Linked DNA regions of Homo sapiens. The protein of the gene in region 1 interacts with the protein of each later gene in a biochemical or structural test. Each region holds a gene or a part of one and is shown on either strand. Other genes may lie near its edges.

Evidence for each region. The genes of interacting proteins can lie anywhere in the genome.
Region 2: the proteins of AHSA1 (region 1) and CLCN1 form a complex in vitro, tested with the Homo sapiens proteins (one study listed by BioGRID).

The regions. Positions count from the first base shown.
Region 1 is NC_000014.9:77,460,441-77,469,324, forward strand, and holds part of AHSA1 (activator of 90 kDa heat shock protein ATPase homolog 1), read left to right. Parts: intron 1-1,719; coding exon 1,720-1,802; intron 1,803-2,201; coding exon 2,202-2,319; intron 2,320-4,157; coding exon 4,158-4,246; intron 4,247-5,098; coding exon 5,099-5,227; intron 5,228-7,642; coding exon 7,643-7,744; intron 7,745-8,016; coding exon 8,017-8,068; intron 8,069-8,636; coding exon 8,637-8,809; 3' UTR 8,810-8,884. UniProt on the Homo sapiens protein: Acts as a co-chaperone of HSP90AA1. Activates the ATPase activity of HSP90AA1 leading to increase in its chaperone activity.
Region 2 is NC_000007.14:143,318,119-143,327,002, reverse strand, and holds part of CLCN1 (chloride channel protein 1), read right to left. Parts: intron 7,249-8,884; coding exon 7,128-7,248; intron 6,340-7,127; coding exon 6,208-6,339; intron 5,639-6,207; coding exon 5,510-5,638; intron 5,289-5,509; coding exon 5,155-5,288; intron 3,695-5,154; coding exon 3,617-3,694; intron 2,593-3,616; exon of another isoform or gene 2,590-2,592; coding exon 2,511-2,589; intron 1-2,510. UniProt on the Homo sapiens protein: Voltage-gated chloride channel involved in skeletal muscle excitability.

The DNA.
Region 1 (8,884 bases):
GTGAACAGTCATATCATAAAGAAGGGTGCAAGTAGATCTATCTGTCCATGATTTTTGTTAATTTGTTTTTAAAGTACACTCGAAGCATAGTAGTGTGGAAGGAATCTTCGGTGTCATCTTGCTCAGACCTCCTTTTTTTTTTTTTAGACAGAGTTTTGCTCGTCACCCAGGCTGGAGTGCAGTGGCACGATCTTGGCTCACTGCAACCTCCACTTCCCGGGTTTAACCAGTTCTCCTGCCTCAGCCTCCCAAGTAGGATTACAGGTGCCCGCCACCACGCCCGGCTAATTTTGTATTTTTATTAGAGATGGGTTTCACCATGTTGGCCAGGCTGGTCTCGAACTGTGTCTGGCCGACGCTTTTTTTTTTTAATATAGGGACTAAAAATTGGTAGCATAGTTTTGTGCACATTAAATGGTAAGAAATAGATAAATATAGGCCGGGCGTGGTGGCTAACGCCTGTAATCCCAGCACTTTGGGAGGCCAAGGTGGGCGGATCACGAGGTCAGGAGATCAAGACCATCCTGGCTGACACAGTGAAACCCCGTCTCTACTAAAAATACAAAAAATTAGCCCGGCGTGGTGGCATGTGCCTGTAGTCCCAGCTACTCGGGAGGCTGAGGCAGGAGAATCGCTTGAACCCAGGAGGCGGAGGTTGCAGTGAGCTGGGATCGCACCGTTGCACTCCAGCCTGGGCAACAGAGTGAGACTCCATCTCAAAAAAAATAAAAAATAGGTGAATACTACAATAAATATGGTGCTTTACCATGAAAAAGACCTGAAGTTTATTTGTGAAAGTGGGCATCAAAGCCAGGCGCGGCGGCTCACGCCTGTAATCTCAGCACTTTGGGAGACTGAGGCAGGTGGATCACGAGGTCAGGAATTGGAGACACACCTGGCCAACATGGTGAAACCCCATCTCTACTAAAAAATACAAAAATTAGCCGTGTGTAGTGGCACGCACCTGTAATCCCAGCTACTTGGGAGGCTGAAGCAGAAGAATTGCTTGAACCTGGGAGGTGGAGGTTGCAATGAGCCAAGATCATGCCACTGCAATCCAGCCTGAGCGACAGAGCAAGACTCTGTCTTGCGGGGGGAAAAGGTGGGCATCAGAAGGGTTGCAGCTTGAGGACTACTATGGAATGGTAGAAGGAGAGTCATCCACAATCAGAGGGAACATTACACTCGTTGAGGATGGGTATGGCTCACAACACACGCTGTAAACTGAGGTCATTGGCAGATAGGTGTTTGAGATGTGTGTGTTTTATGTATCCTGTGTAGCTGGGTGAGGCTTTCCGTATTCACCTAGTGTTTCTCATGGATGGAGTCACATATAAGCAAACATGAACTTCTCATTATAATCAAATTGTTCCCTAATATTTCAGTTGCACTGAAATAAATTGATATTTTCAAAACAAGTATTCTAGCAGAACTACTGGCTTTTGACCCAAGTTCTCATGGTATAACTCATGCTAGTACCAAATCTGTAGCTCTTTGTCTCACATTGTAATAACATAGTTGGTTTCCAGTAACCTGGTGAGGAAAGACATTTCTTTTGGGGGTGCGGGTGTTGATTGCATCTGGCATGTGGCATTCTCAGAATAAAGAGGATCAGTTCAGCCATCCAAAAGCAGCAGAAGTGAGGTAGCAGTTAGGACCCTGGAGCAGAGACCTTTCCTGCCAAGGAGTGGACTAATGACATTGCATTGGTTTTGACAGGTACTTCTAAGTCAGGAGTACAATACAAAGGACATGTGGAGATCCCCAATTTGTCTGATGAAAACAGCGTGGATGAAGTGGAGGTTTGTGCTTCATAACTCCTAATCCGAGTCCTCTATATCCTCTTATTCTCAGATGAGAAAAGTGACCTGTCATTCAGGATTCATAGCCCAGGCTTGGTCCAAGCATTCAGAACCCTAGCCTGCAGATAATTTTCTAGGCATATGGTGCCATTGGAAACTTCTAGAGCAATTTGCACTTCTTTAATTTCTTCACTTTAGCTAGTGACATGGGTTCTAACTAACATTAGCCACTTGACAGAGAGGACTCAAGAAGGAACACTAATGGGGATTGTACGAATACCGCAGTACTCATGCATTTCCTTTGGAAATGTCAGCAGTCACCTGATTGCTCAGCCCCCACATTCCATAATGAGGGTGCCCCTCAAGTTATTTACCACCTACTTCTCATCTTTCACCCAGATTAGTGTGAGCCTTGCCAAAGATGAGCCTGACACAAATCTCGTGGCCTTAATGAAGGAAGAAGGGGTGAAACTTCTAAGAGAAGCAATGGGAATTTACATCAGCACCCTCAAAACAGGTATCCCTTGAGTAGTTCTGTATGCCTTAAGGAGGTAGTTTCCACCTGTTAGACTCTGGTTAAGGGCCTGGACAGTCCTTTCTTTGGCAAATGGGTAAAGATTTGGGGGGAGGGGGCTTATTTCATCTTAAAGTCAGTCCATAAGCTCGGAGTAAGGGAAAGATCTGGAGCTGTGTTGCCTAATAATGATGGTTGAGCATTTTAGATGTGGCTAGACCAAACTGAAATGTACTGTGATGGCCTGGCGCGGTGGCTCACACTTGTAATCCCAGCACTGTTGGATGCTGAGGTGGGCTGATTGCCTGAGCTCAGGAATTTGAGACCAGCCTGGGCAACATGGCGAAACCCTGTCTCTACAAAAAATACAAAAATTAGCTGGATGCGGTGGCCCATGCCTGTAATCCCAGCTACTCGGGAGGCTGAGGTGGGAGAGTGGCTTGAGCCCAGGAGGCAGGGAGGTTGCATTGAGCTGAGATCATGCCACTGCACTCCAGCCTGGATGACCAAAAAACACAAGAGATGTGCTGTGAGTATAAATTACACTACGGGCTGGGCACAGTGGCTCACACCTATAATCCCAGCCCTTTGGGAAGCCGAGGTGGGCGGATCACCTGAGGTCGGGAGTTCGAGACCAGCCTGACCAATAGAGAAACCCCATCTCTACTAAAAATACAAAATTAGCCGGGCATGGTGGTGCATGCTTGTAATCCCAGCTACTCAAGAGGCTGAGGCAGGAGAATTGCTTGAACCCAGGAGGTAAAGGTTGCGGTGAGCCAAGAACGCGCCATTGCACTCCAGCCTGGGTGACAGAGGGAGACTCCATCTCAAAAAAAAAAAAAACAAAAAAAAAACTGTATTTGAGGCTCACATTATATTTCTAATGGACAGCGCTAATCTAAAGACTTGGCATCTCTGGACTCATTACTTGAATACAGTCTGGACTATCTTTGATATGCACTCTCCAGGGATATTTAGATGCTTAGAATAGAAGTCAGCTCAGCTTTCCCCTGGGATTCCATTTCTGCCAGTGTATTCTGATCTTGGTGTTGGAATATGTATAATAACCATCAAAGAAGGTGATGGAAGGTGATAGACACCTTTTTGGGGAGGACCAGTACACCAGTGCCATAACTAGTTGTGGCTTTTCTGCAGAGGTAAGGCAGAGTGGAGGAAAGGCACTAACCATGCATCCATAGGTGCTGGGTAGATTACCCACTCTTGAAGTCATCAAAGTGCCACGGCGTTCACGCCATCCTTCCATAGTAGACCTCACATGCACTTAATATGTTATAATGTTTCCAGTTGAGTCAGGATAAGCTTTTAAAAATAATCCCAGTGGCCAGGTGCAGTGGCTCACACCTGTAATCCCAGCACTTTTGGAGGCCGAGGCTAGTAGATCACAAGGTCAGGAGATCAAGACCATCCTGGCCAACATGGTGAAACCCCGTCTCTACTAAAAATACAAAAATTAGCTGGGCATGGTGGTGCACGCCTATAATCCGAGCTACTCAGGAGGCTGAGGCAGGAGAATAGCTTGAACCAGGGAGTCAGAGGTTGCAGTGAGTTGGAGTGCAGGCTGCACTCCAGCCTGGTGACAGAGCAAGACTCCATCTCAAAAAAAAAATAATAATAATCCCAGTGAACATACTGTATTCTATAGCATATACCCAGGTACCAGTCTGGCATAGGCCAAAAGTAAAGATGTAAAAATAGCCTCTTCCTTTTCTGGTCATAACCTCATTCTGTGGTAGGATGGCTGTGTTTGTCAAGCTGTAATGAAACTCCAGATCTCAGCTACTAAGAAGTAACTTCCATGAGCTGGAATTTTATCTTTTCAGAGTTCACCCAGGGCATGATCTTACCTACAATGAATGGAGAGTCAGTAGACCCAGTGGGGCAGCCAGCACTGAAAACTGAGGAGCGCAAGGTAAATGGTTTTCCTGGGGTGGGAGACTGTCTGCAAAGGAACTTGAGAGACCGCCTTCTTAATTCCACATATCAGCTCTCTGTGTCCCTAACCTCTAAGCCAGACCAGCCTGCGATCTGCTCATGGTGCTTTTTCAGAGCGCCTGCAATATGCATTCATTCACCCATCTTTAACCTGGTTTTAATTCATTTATCGCAGACCTTTAGAGCAAGTAGGAGCTATCAGACAGTTAAAAGTCTGACTCTTGATTGCATTTAGCACCAGTTAGGAGGTTATGAACAAAGGATGGACTTCACCTATATAAGTCTTCAGTCTAATTGGTGTGTTGATATTTCATACTTTGATATTAGAGGTCCCATCAAGAAATGGAGTTACATCCCTGTCTTCACCCAATCTCCCCAATTTTCAGGGTGAGCAAGTACTTTATCTAGAGATGGAAGTTTGTGGTTCAAGCTCAGCACTTGGTTTAGAGCCCTGTTGCTCTTTTGTCAGCATAGTGAAGTGGATACTCTGGAAGTGGGGAGAAAACCGCTTCCAGCTATTTAAACATAGAAATTGTTTGAGAATTACACTGAGCTCTTCAAAAATATCTCAATGATTTGATTTGTTATTTGACTATCAGGGTCTTCCTTGTAGAGTGGTTATTTTTACTGGGAATTGAGGAGGTTTCCAGAATCATTACCCTCATGACTGAAACACCTACACACTCAAATTCCCTTCAAACCCCTTGGAATAATTACCCTTGGAGGTGAACATTTTTATGAGAATGAATGGTACAACTGTCTCTGAAGCCACGTTGATTGAGGTTGTATCATTACTCTGTATTGATCATTTTCACTGCCACCTTCACAGGCTAAGCCTGCTCCTTCAAAAACCCAGGCCAGACCTGTTGGAGTCAAAATCCCCACTTGTAAGATCACTCTTAAGGAAACCTTCCTGACGTCACCAGAGGAGCTCTATAGAGTGTTTACCACCCAAGAGGTAAGTAAGTCTTGTCCTTCAGGCCTCATGCCATCTGCCCTTCTAGGTGACTTGAGTTGGGGGCATATCCCTTCAGCAGTGTACAGAAGAGGTACTCACAAACTCACAACTGGAGCCATGAGGCCTTCATCAAAGTGAATTTTTCCCTCCCTCTATTCTCTTTTTTTTTTTTTGAGACGGAGTCTCGCTCTGTCACCTGCCCAGGCTGGAGTGCAGTGGCACAATCTCAGCTCACTGCAACCTCTGCCTCCCAGGTTCCAGCAATTCTCCTGCCTCAGCGTCCTGAACAGCTGGTACTATAGGCACACGCCATCACGCCTAGCTAATTTTTATGTTTTTTAGTAGAGATGGGGTTTCACCATATTTTTTAGTAGAGATGGGCTGGTCTGAAACTCCTGACCTCAAGTGATCTGCCTGCCTCAGCCTCCCAAAGTGCTGGGATTACAGGTGCAAACCACTGTGCTCGGCCATATTTATTTATTTTAAAAACAAAAGACCTGGTCTTGCTATGTTGCCCAGACTAACGTTGAACTTCTGGGCTCAAGCGATCCTCCTTCCTCAGCCTCCTGAGTAGCTGGGACTACAGGTGCACACTACCGTGCCTGTTCCAGTTTTGGGTCATATAAGTAGAAACCACTGAGTGAATCTTACTAGAAAAGTGAATGGCCATTCTTGGTTACTCTGTAGCACAGAAGAATTCCTGGCTTCTTTGTGTTGCACAGCTGACTTGTGCCATTCTGCTGCTATAGTGTGGAGTTGAGAAACATGACCGTATTCAGCTTTATTATCTGATAGTAAAGGTGGTTAGGATATGTGGAAGTTCCCATATACTCTGGGACAAAATTTCAAGATCTTATTTTTTAAACAAAAATGTAAATACAGCCATAAATTAAGAGGTACCATGTAGTATATGGGTGTTAGTATGTCTGTGCGCCTGCACCCAAAATACTCTCGTGATAAGTTCTCTCCCCCTTAGAAAACCAAGAACTGGAGAAGCAATTAAATGGACTGGGTTTTCTAGAAATTTAAAAAGATGTGTATAAACAAAATTGTACTGTACTTCAGAAAGTTATCTTAGTTGACTCCAGAGATGTGTTATGACCTGGCTATGCCAAAGACTGCATTCGATGGCTAACTTGGTTCTACTTGGTGCCTGCTGCCTTGAAGGACTTAGCAGCATAGCTGTGGTCTTCATGTGAATTGAATTTAGCACTTCAACACAGACTTCAGTTGAATCTCTGCTTCCAAACTAGCTAAAGTTTTCAGAGTTTTAAAATACTTTTGTATGGGAGGATTCCTAACATTTTTAACCTTCTGTTTATTTTTAATTTTGTACCATGTATTCGTATTACCTACTTTAAAAAATAGTAAAGTCTTATTAAAAGTAAAAGCGGCACCGTTGGGTAATCGAACACAGCAAAATGATACTGATTTCATATATATGGAGTAGGCCAGGCACAGTGGCTTACATCTCTAATCCCAGCACTTTGAGGGGCTGAGGCGGGTGAATTACTTGAGCCCAGGAGTTTGAGACCAGCCTGGCCAACATGGTGAAGCCCTGTCTCTACAAAAAATACAAAAATTAGCCAGGTATGGTGGTATGCGCCTGTAGTCCCAGCTCCTCAGGAGGCTGAGGTGGGAGGATCACCTAAGCTTAGGAGGTCGGGGCTGCAGTGAGCCATGATCATGCCACTGCACTTCGGCCTGGGCAACAGAGCGAGACCTATCTCAAAAAAAATAAAAGGGCTGGGCGCGGTGGCTCACGCCTGTAATCCCAGCACTTTGGGAGGCCAAGGTGGGTGGATCACGAGGTCAGGAGTTCAAGACCAGCCTGGCCAAGATGGTGAAACCCCATCTCTACTAAAAAATACAAAAAGTTAGCCAGGCATGGTGGCATGCGCCTGTAATCCCAGCTACTACAGAGGCTGAAGCAGAGAATTGCTTAAAACCTGGACGGGCGGAGGTTGCGTGAGCCGAGATCGCGCCACTGCACTCCAGCCTGGGCAACAAAGTGAGACTCCGTCTCAATAAATAAAAAAATAAAATAAAATAAAAGATGGAATAGATCTATTTTGGGACATGTTCTCAGAAATGATAATAGAAGTCTCAAACATTTACTTGAGAATTTTCTTTCATAAGCTCATTCTTATATCTTTCTGAACCATATACAATTTCAAATAAATAAAAGTAAACGGGTCCAAAGTAATGGCATCATCAGATCAGAAAGAATTCCCGAAGTCAAGTCCTGGCTGGTATTAAAACAGAATAGAGGGACACCCTGGACCCGCCTGTGGGGCAGACTGGTGGAAATGAGAGTTGAGGCATGCAGCCTTCAGCTGGCATTTGTCCTTGGGTCCCACTGAAAGCCATGTATCTTCTGCCTCTTTTTTTTTTTTTTTTTTTTTTTCCCTGCAGCTGGTGCAGGCCTTTACCCATGCTCCTGCAACATTAGAAGCAGACAGAGGTGGAAAGTTCCACATGGTAGATGGCAACGTCTCTGGGGAATTTACTGATCTGGTGAGTACCTGCCGGCCCTAGACTCAGGTTATTGCCTCTGGTCAGATGAGTGACATTTCTCTTTTTCTGAACTCTATAGGTAAAATGTAAGGCTTTAATCTCTTTGTTAATAAAACATTTTGTTTTTCAAAAAAAGGCTGTGATTTGAACTGTCTTGCAAGTAATATAATTGCACAGATGGTAGACTCCGTATGAAGGGCAGATGACTGATCCTAGCTAGGATTGGGTACATTGTAGTATATAATATAGACTGAGCTGTTTGATTATTTTAGGTCCCTGAGAAACATATTGTGATGAAGTGGAGGTTTAAATCTTGGCCAGAGGGTAAGTAAACATATTTATTGCCATTACCCCCAGAACTTTTTCTCTTTGCTGTAATTTTTTTTTTTTTTTTTTTGGAAACAGGGTCTCACTGTCACTCAGGCTAGAGTGCAGTGGCATAATCACAGCAAACTGCAGCCTTAACCTCCCAGACCCAAACGATCCTCCTGCTTCAGCTTCCCAAGTAGCTGAGACTACGTGTGCCACCATGCCAGCTTTTTTTTTTTTTTTTTTTTTTTTACTTTTTTACTTTTTTTGTAGAGATGGGGTCCTACTACATTGTCCAGGCTAGTCTCGAACTCCTGGGCTCAAGTGATCCTCCTGCCTCAGCCTCCCAAAGTGCTGGGATTACAGGTGCATGCCACCACGCCCACGTAATTTTAGTAGAGATGGAGTTTCACCATGTTAGCCAGGCTGGTCTGGAACTCCTGACCTCTGGTGATCCGCCCACCTCAGCCTGCCAAAGTGCTGGGATTACAGGTGTGAGCCACCACGCCCAGCCAGGTTGCCCCAGTCTTAAACTCAGATGGAAACCTAGATATGAAACCTCCGTCCCCTCTGCCTTTCCCAGGACACTTTGCCACCATCACCTTGACCTTCATCGACAAGAACGGAGAGACTGAGCTGTGCATGGAAGGTCGAGGCATCCCTGCTCCTGAGGAAGAGCGGACGCGACAGGGCTGGCAGCGGTACTACTTTGAGGGCATTAAACAGACCTTTGGCTATGGCGCACGCTTATTTTAGGGCCAGCGGCAGGGGACTCCAGCCTGCTGGACACTTCAGTCCAGCTCTCTCCTGACTGGGGCTTGCGACTCACAG
Region 2 (8,884 bases), on another chromosome or scaffold:
GTGCTGGGATTATGGGCATGAGCCACTGTGCCTGGCCACTGATAACTTTTTTAGTTTAAAAAAAACTCTCTTTAACCAAGCATTTTCCAACTGGTTTATAGAACCATTTTTACACATTAGATCTAGTAAACCATGAAACACATTCGTGCAAATCCTAGTCTAGAGAATAAATTCCATATTCTTATACATAGCCATGAGAGTCTTCATAATTCAGCCCCCCTTTACTTGTCCAGCCTCATTTGCTATTATTCCTTCCTCTGTATCCCCTGGTAATACTCAGCTACTGCCCCCATCTTGACTTTGCAATGCTGTTTCCTCTGTCCAGAATACCTTGCCCACCATCCTCCTTGCCAGTCCTACTTATTATTCAAGCCTCATGTCAAACACCACCTCTTTTGTGAAGCTTCATGGGCTCTTGTAGGCAGGTTAGCATAAGGTCCCCACTGCACTTTACCCCAGCTGCCATTGGGCCACTTTTTCGAGTGAGCTATGACAATAGGTTTGCCTGCCTGTCCAGCCTCTCAACTAGGAGCACCCTGAGTGTGCAAGATCCAACACAGGGCCTGGTACAGAATGGGAGCAAGATGCTTGTCATTTCAGTAGAATGCTGAATTCCATTTATTTCATTAGTGTAAGAAATTAAGAGCTGACTCCATAATGAATACCTCATTTTGATACTAATTTTCCTTTCAGAATTATTCGGTATTCTTTTTTAAAAATCAAGTAATAGGCCAAGGTGGGCGGATCACTTGAGGTCAGGAGGTTGAGAGCAGCCTGGCCAACATGGTTAAACCCTGTCTCTACTAAAAATACAAAAAATTAGCCAGGCGTGATGGCGCAGGCCTGTAATCCCAGCTACTTGGGAGACTGAGGCATGAGAATTGCTTGAACCCAGGAGACAGAGGTTGCAGTGAGCCAAGATGGTGCCACTGCACTCCAGCCTGGGTGACAGAGCAAGACTCCATCTAAACAAACAAACAAACAAACAAACAAAAAAAACAAGTAATGCCACCTGCAAATACCTTTGTCATTTACCACATAATACAAACAGCGTAAACATGGCACCTTAATTTTTAAGTACTTAACAATTTCTTGTGTCAACAGCAATGTTTTATCTGTGAATTTTTTCTTCCTTTTTCTACCACAGTGGTTTCAGAACTGTTGCCTGTAACTTCTCTGTGATCTTTACCTCTCCCATACTTGACACAGGACCAAGAAGAACTTTTCTGATTCTTCTCAGAAATTCCAATTTTACGAGGAAAATGCAAATTCTCTTCATGTTAAGAGAATCTGGCTGATTAAAACAAAACAACAGAAGTCTCCCAGTCTAAAAATATTATTTAAACCTCCTGGATTTGAAAGGCTAACGAGTAAATAAAGGCAAAAGTGGGTATAAATGTAAGTGTGAACGTTTAACATGTGCAAAAATCCAAATACACTATCCTCCACTGACAAGGATTAGTGATTTTAATGAGTAGAGCTGAGGACAGAAATGTAAACAGGATGCTAGCTGATGTGCTTGCTAACTTGGGTTCCTTAGTCTGTGTGCTTTGCCACAGTGTTTGCATAAGTTAGATCATGCATTTGCATTAACTTTAAACTCTTCTCCACTTATCATTCCTGCACCAAGTCATTTTAGTTCCCTGGAAGATTCTATGAAAAGATTGCTTAACATTTCCATAACTGAAAAGAAACCTCTAACAGTGGGTCATTTAAGAAGCATATGCCCTTCCTGCAATTTTGTTTCTTCACATATCAACTTGGTGTCCTTTTTATCATCAATGAATCCAGTGAATGATCTATATAATCCTGCCCTGCTAATCTAGCTATAATTGATTTTGATGAGTCAATAAACAGATACGACTGCTTTCTCCGACTACATCCATTTGTTAATCATCCATGATAAGGAAAATAATCTGAGAGATCGCTATTTGCCTTATACTTGGAGAAAGAGCTAAACTTAACTTTAAATTGCTATCAAGGGACATTTATCCTTTGAAACTCTCCTAACTATTCCACACTAAAAGCTTACCATTAATCTAAATAAGGTCTACCTGAATTCCCATGCAATTAATAAAGCACAACAAAATGTGGATTTTTCCCTTGAAGGAGGAAGTTCATAGAGTCCCCTGTTAGAGATGTCATCGGTGTAGGGCAAAAACATCCAACAATACAAACAGGTTTGAAAATAAGTAGGGGAGCCACGGAGACTGCCTTGGTTTTAATTCCTGGCTTGTACCTTACTAACAGAATGAACTTGCTCAAGTCACTGTCCCTCTCTGTAACTCAGTTCTCTCCTCTTCCTCCTCTGTAATATCTGTCTCATATGGCTTTGGCCAGGAATAAAAGTAAGTGCTTTAAACATTGCCTGGCACATAGCAAAGGCTTACTAAAAGTCAGCTATTCTCGTAAGTAACCTGGTAATACCAGCACTTGTGGATACTGATTAAAACTGTTTTGGGAGCCAGGCCAGGCAAGCCGATTGATGGGGGAGGGGGTCAATCACTTGCCTCCAAGTGGTGTCCCAAAACAACAGCCGACTCCCACAGCACAGCCCACCGTCAGGATATCAGAGTAGTAGTATGGCTGCTACTAGGGGAGAGACAGACAGAGAAACAGGTGGAAGAGAGGGAGGTGGGCAGGCAGAGGACAGAACAAGCAGGGATGGGGAATAAGGCAGAATGAGAGGCCTAAGTCAAAAGGAGTCCTTGTGGTCCCATGTCCCCTGTGATTCCCAGGCCAAGAGAAACTCAGTGAGTTTGGCAAAAAGGAATTAACCTCATAGCACAGTGTCAAAATGAAATAGAAGGTAGAAAATGAAATAAAAGTTAGGCAAATATATGCCAGGCACGTAAATCAATAAATGATAAGCAGAAAAGAGACAGCAAGAACTCCAGAAAGCAGTACTAATAAATCCTGCACCAAACAGCAAGCAGTCTCAAAATAATACACAGCCCTTTGCTGAAAAAATATAGGTATCTGGACCGCAGGGGCTGTGATCCACAGTCATTCCCTGGATGCCCACTCCAAAGCTTGTGGCAGCCACCCAAAACCCCCTTCTAAGTCTTGCTTAGGCAACCGGGATAGGGAGGAAGTGCAACTTGCCTCCGACAGGGGCTGCAAAGCAGCATCCCACGCCCACTGCACAGGCCGACACCAGGAGGTCAAGCTGCCCAGGCACGGTCTGCAACAGAGAAGCACGCGGGACAAGGGGGTGGAGGGGTGGGGCAGGCGGGACGTATGTAAGAGGTAGGGTGAGGGATTGGGAGCTACAAAGGGATGGGGGAGCACACGAGGGAAACGTGGAGGGAAACTAACACAGAGGGGGTGGTATGGACTAGCAGGGAGAGCATGGGAGCAGACGACAGACCAGACCTCCATGTGGGGCCACAGGTGAAAGAGGGGTGGACATTTGGAGGACAGGCACAGGCTAAACAGAGGCATCACGTGGCCAGGGTAGGCAGACAGGGAGACGAGGAAGGGAGCGTGGATTAGTGCGATGCTGCTTCAGCACCACAGCCAGCCCAGAGCAGAGGCAGCCCTCCCAACACCCTGGACACACAGCCGGACTCCTTCTACCACCTGGCCCCAGCTCATTTCACTGTCTCAACCTTACCTCATATACCCCGCAGAACACAGACATGAATTTGCTGAGGACAGCAGCACAGATGCTGGCAATGTGGACGAAGGGGCCCTGGGAGAGGGGGAGCGAGGGGGCGGGGGTCAGAGGCCAGATGGAGGCTCTGCAGCACTCACTGGACTAATAATATTCCTTACTCCAGGCACTGTGCCAGGGGCTGGAAATACGGGAGTTACACAGAGGTCCTGCCCTCACGAGGCCTCATCCCAGAGAGGAAGAAGAGGAGAAACCAGTGTGTTTCTCCTCTCCAGAGAGCCAGGGTGGAGGAGGGTGGGAGGGCACGTGTTTAGAGGAAAGGGCCTGAGGAGCCTGCCTAAAGTAGAGCTTTGAATGATGGGAGGGAGGGAGCCGCGCAGATGTCAGGAGGAAGAATGTTCCAGGCTGAGAAAACAGCACACAGGCGCCCTGAGGGGCCCAGGGCAGAGTGACTGAGGGACAGAAAGGAAACTTGTGAGCCAAACACAGGAAAGCAGGGGCACAGGCCTGCAGAGAGGAGGAACCAGAGTCCACGGTCTCGAAGGCCACGCAAGAAGTTCTGATAAGGCCGGGCGCGGTGGCGCACGCCTGTAATCCCAGCACTTTGCAAGGCCAAGGCAGGTGATCACCCGAGGTCAGGAGTTTGAGACCAGCCTGACCAATATGGTGAAACCCTATCTCCACTAAAAATACAAAAATTACCAGATGTGGTGGCGTGTGCCTGCAGTCCCAGCTACTCGGGAAGCTGAGGTGGGAGAATCGCTTGAACCTGGGAGGTGGAGGTTGCAGTGAGCCAAGATCGCACCACTGCACTCCAGCTTGGGCAAGCGAGCTAGACACTGTCTCAACAACAACAACAACAAAACTTTCAATTTTGTTTTAAGAGGCATGGAAAGCCTTAAGAAGTTTTTGACCAGGGGTCAGATGAGACTGATCCCATTTTTAAAAGATGCCTCTGGCTGCTGGGTGGAATATGGCAGTAGGGGGCAAAGATGAACACCAGCAGAGAACGGAAGGAGGCTGCAACCCACCGAGCAACCTTGAAAATAGCACAGCCTCTTTCTCAGTCCTAGTTTTCTCAGATTCAAGCAAGAGAATTGGTCTGGATGATCTCTAAGACAGTGTTCTCAACCAGGGGAGATTTTGTCCTCCAGGGTCCATATGGCAATGTCTGAGGACATGCTGGTGTCACAACTGGGCGATGCAGCTGGGCATCTAGGAAGGGTCAGAGGCCAGCAATGCTGCTAAGTCCCCTCCACTGCACAGAACAGCCTCCCCACAGCACAGAGTTTTCCAGCCCCAAATGTCAGGGGTGTCCAGGCTAAGAGCCTGCTCCAAGCTCCCCAAGCTGTGTGGTTTTTGTCATTGGACCTCAGTTGGAGGAACTTCCAAAGCATTTCCCCTTCCTAGTGTCCCCTGGCCCTGGCCTTGGTCCTGTCCCCTGATCCACTTCCACTCCCAGAGCTCCCTCTAGAGTTGGTGCCACCCTGGCTCCTGAGGGCCCCTCCCAGCTCTGGCTTCAGTCATGCCAGGCCTACCTCTTTCCCCACGGGGATGCCACTGCCCAGGCCCGCAGTCAGGGCGACAACCTTGGCCACAAAGGCTTTCATTGTGAGGTATTCCTTCAGGACAACCCCACGAAGTATTGTCTTCATTTCGGGGATTCCAGAGCCTAAAAGCGTTGAAAGATTATGTGCAGGGTCAAGGTGAAGGTGAAAAGGGAGATGAATGTCCAGAATATGGGAATGGGAATTGGAGAGGGCTGAAGAGGCAGTGGTGGGGAGGATGGGGCAAGGCAGCACAGGGCTGTGGGTGGGGCTGGATGATGGGGGAGACAGACAGGGCCCCTCTCAGGCCACCCAGCTCAGGCCGAGTCTGGTGGCAAGTTCTCACCAACAGCCTGGGGAGAGATGAGGTGGCAGAAGAGGGCGCTGAAGAGGATGAGGACTAGTGGGAAGGTGACCCAGACCAGGAACTGCAGAGGAAGGCTGGGCTGCATCTGCGCGTAGGACCACTTGTAGGCTGCGGAGACACATGCCTGGGGTTAGGCAGAACATGGCTGAGCAGCCGTGTCCACGGCACCAGGACGTGTACCCGGCATGTTCTCAGGCCGTGCTCCTTCTGTGTGCCCCTTCTGAGATGGTGCTGCTCTCATTTGACACATGGGAAGCCTGAGTTATGGAGGCGACATGGCCTGTTCCAGTTGGTGGCTGTGTCACGAATCCCACTGGAGTACAGGGTCTGGAGGCCTGGGTGTGACCAACCACCCGGTGTGCCCAGAACCAAGGGGCTTCCTGGGATTCGGGATGTTCAGTGCTGAAACTGGGAAAGTCCCTGGGGAACTGGGGCAAGTTGGCCACCCTATTAGAGGGGCATCCACTGCTTGGGTGGCAGTGAGTGGAGGGGCGTGAGAAGTGGAGCAGGCCTGGGTCTGGTCTTTTCTGGGCCTGGAGTCCCACCTGATCCCTCTCTGCGCAATATTCGCTTCCCATAACACACCCTGCTTAACATTCGCTTCCGATAACACACCCTGCTTACCCTAGGTAGAAACTCCAGAAACGGCTGTGGGCAAAGGTCCAGGTTAAACCTACCCTGAAGGCTTTTGGCACTGACGTAGTCCATGCTCCAGCTGACCAGAGCCATCAGCAGTCCCAGAAGCACCAGAAAGATCCCGTCTTCCCCTAATTTTCTTCTCACCACCTGTCCCAGGCGGTGGATACAATCTAGGAAGAGATGAGGGAAAAAACAAACAAACAAACAACAAACAAACAAACAAACAAAAATATATATATGTAGAGACAGAGAGAGAGAGAGAGAGAGAGAGAGAGAGAGAAAAGCAGCTAACGAGTCACTACTTTACTTTGGGTGCTATACCCAAGATGGGAGGGGAAGCCTTGGGCCCCCAGGGTCCGTATGTCTTATGCACTGAGTTTCTCATTACCCCTCTGCTGATTGCTGCTCCGGCCCCTGCAAAAGGCACCAAAGCCCAGTTCCCCATGAATACTTGAATTCCTTCCTAAAACTCATTTCTTGGAGTTGTGGGAGGAATAACAGGGAATAGGCAAAGTGCGAAGGAGGTGAAGAGAGGTGCCTTTTCCTTAATACTTAGAGGGGCCAAGCATGGTGGCTCACGCCTCTAATCCCAGGAATTTGGGAGGCTAAGGCGGGAGGATTGCTTGATGCCAGGAGTTCAAGACCAGCCTCAGCATCCTTACAAAAAAAGTTTTAAAATTAGCTGGGCATGGTGGCATGTGCCTATAGTCTCAGCTACTGGAGAGGCTGAGGCAGGAGGATCACTTGAGCCCAGGAGTTCTAGGCTGCAGTGAGCTATGATCACTCCACTGCACTTCAGTCTGAATGACAGAGTGAGACCCTGTCTCTTAAAAACAATTAGAGGAGAGTTTTTGTAGCAGGGCAGGGAGTACGTACGTGCAATGGGATGCCCAAGTTATTCTCCTAATCCCTGTACCTGTTTCTACTCCAGATTTCTTTATTCCTCAGTCCCCATCACCTTGACATTTAGAATAGTGATCCTCATCCTTGCTGTCCACGGTAGAACTGGAGCCTGTCTTCTTGGGCATCCCTATGTCCTGCTCCCTGTCTGAGAATTGTTCTTTGTGATGGCCATAAATCTGGACAGAGAGAGAATGATCAGTGTCTGCCTTGTGGAAGACTAAAAAAATAATAGACAGAGGCCAGCAGACAGACTCACAGAAGAAAAGAACAACAGCTTTTTGAATTCTGGGTGTTGACTGCATGCAGGGTGACTTTGTGGTCATCCCTGCCCTCTACTCTCCACCCTCCATTCCCACACTTCCCACCCTTTCCCTTGTTCATTCATCCTACCTTCTCTACACCCATTCTCCAACCTGTACTCACCTTGATCCAGGGTAGCCTTTATCAAGGAGGCCAGTTTTTGCTTTGAAGCAGAGGTACAGAACTGTGCTGAACCCAGGTGGCCATATCAATCAGGTGTTTTGTGTCACTGCGCTTTCTGTATGTCCCACAATTTCCCCAGACCACTTGCATTGACTTTTCTCCTAACATGAACAGGGTGAGGACAGACTGGGCTAACTAGCAGGGCAGTCTTGGTTGCACTTTGCCTTGGTGTGTCTAGCCTTACCTGAGGCACCTCAGGTCCTCTATCAAGCTTCAAGACCATCCACTTCATCTCCCAGTGCTTGTATGCACACACAAGAACTAGCCCGAAAAGGCAGGTCCATCTACTTCTTCCCACAGCTAGATAATTAGACCCCTACCTGCCCCACATGTGAAGAGGACAGAGCAGCTCCCCCAGGTCTGGTGGCCCTCCGCTTCCATCCTGAGGCAGAGCACGTGTGTCTGTGTGGGGTATACAAGAGCTCCAACCACTTTTAGCCTGCCCCACTCCCACTACACTAACTGTCCTCTGGGGCCAGGGTCAGGCCAGGCCATGTTGCTGGATTCTGGGAGAGCCTGAGTAGAAGAGATCTGATTTCACAATATGAGCAGCATTTTACACCGCAGTCCTGAACAAGCACGCACATGAATTGCCCTGCTCATGGCTGTTTGTCTTCTGGGTCAGTGACCGAGGGAGGCAGTGTTTCCTTCCAAACCCTGCGTGGGACCCAGAGAGAGAACATACTTCCCAGTGGAAGTCAGACAGCTGAGGCTGTCTCAGCTCCTCAAGGCCCCAGGCCAGTGGAGACAAGGAAGGGGGTTGCTTCATATCATCATACCTGGGCTGGGAAAACACTTAAAGGGCCAGATCTGTTCTGGCTGGTCCCATGCAGGGCAGGGTGAGGGGAGGGCAAGGGAGAAGTCAAAACTCAAGTCTACAAGTGATACAATGTCTGGGATTTGTTAAAAAGTATTCCAAGGTGGAAGCAAGGCTCAGTGGCTCACCCCTGTAACCCCAGCACTTTAGGAGCCTGAGATGGGCAGGTTACCTGAGGTCAGGAGATCAAGACCAGCCTGACCAACATGGAGAAACCTCGTCTCTACTAAAAATACAAAAATTAGCCAGGCATGGTGGCGCATGCCTGTAATCTCAGCTACCTGGGAGGCGGAGGCAGGAGAATTGCTTGAACCAGGGAGGCGGAGATTGCGGTGAGCTGAGATCGCGCCATTGCATTCCAGCCTGGGCAACAAGAGCGAAACTCCATCTCAAAAACAAAAAACAAAAAACAAAAAACAAAAAAAAAGTATTCCATGGTGTGTAGAGTGGTGAGGGTGGGGAAGGGAAGAATAGATGGAACAATAGTGACAAAATATTGACAACTGGTGGGT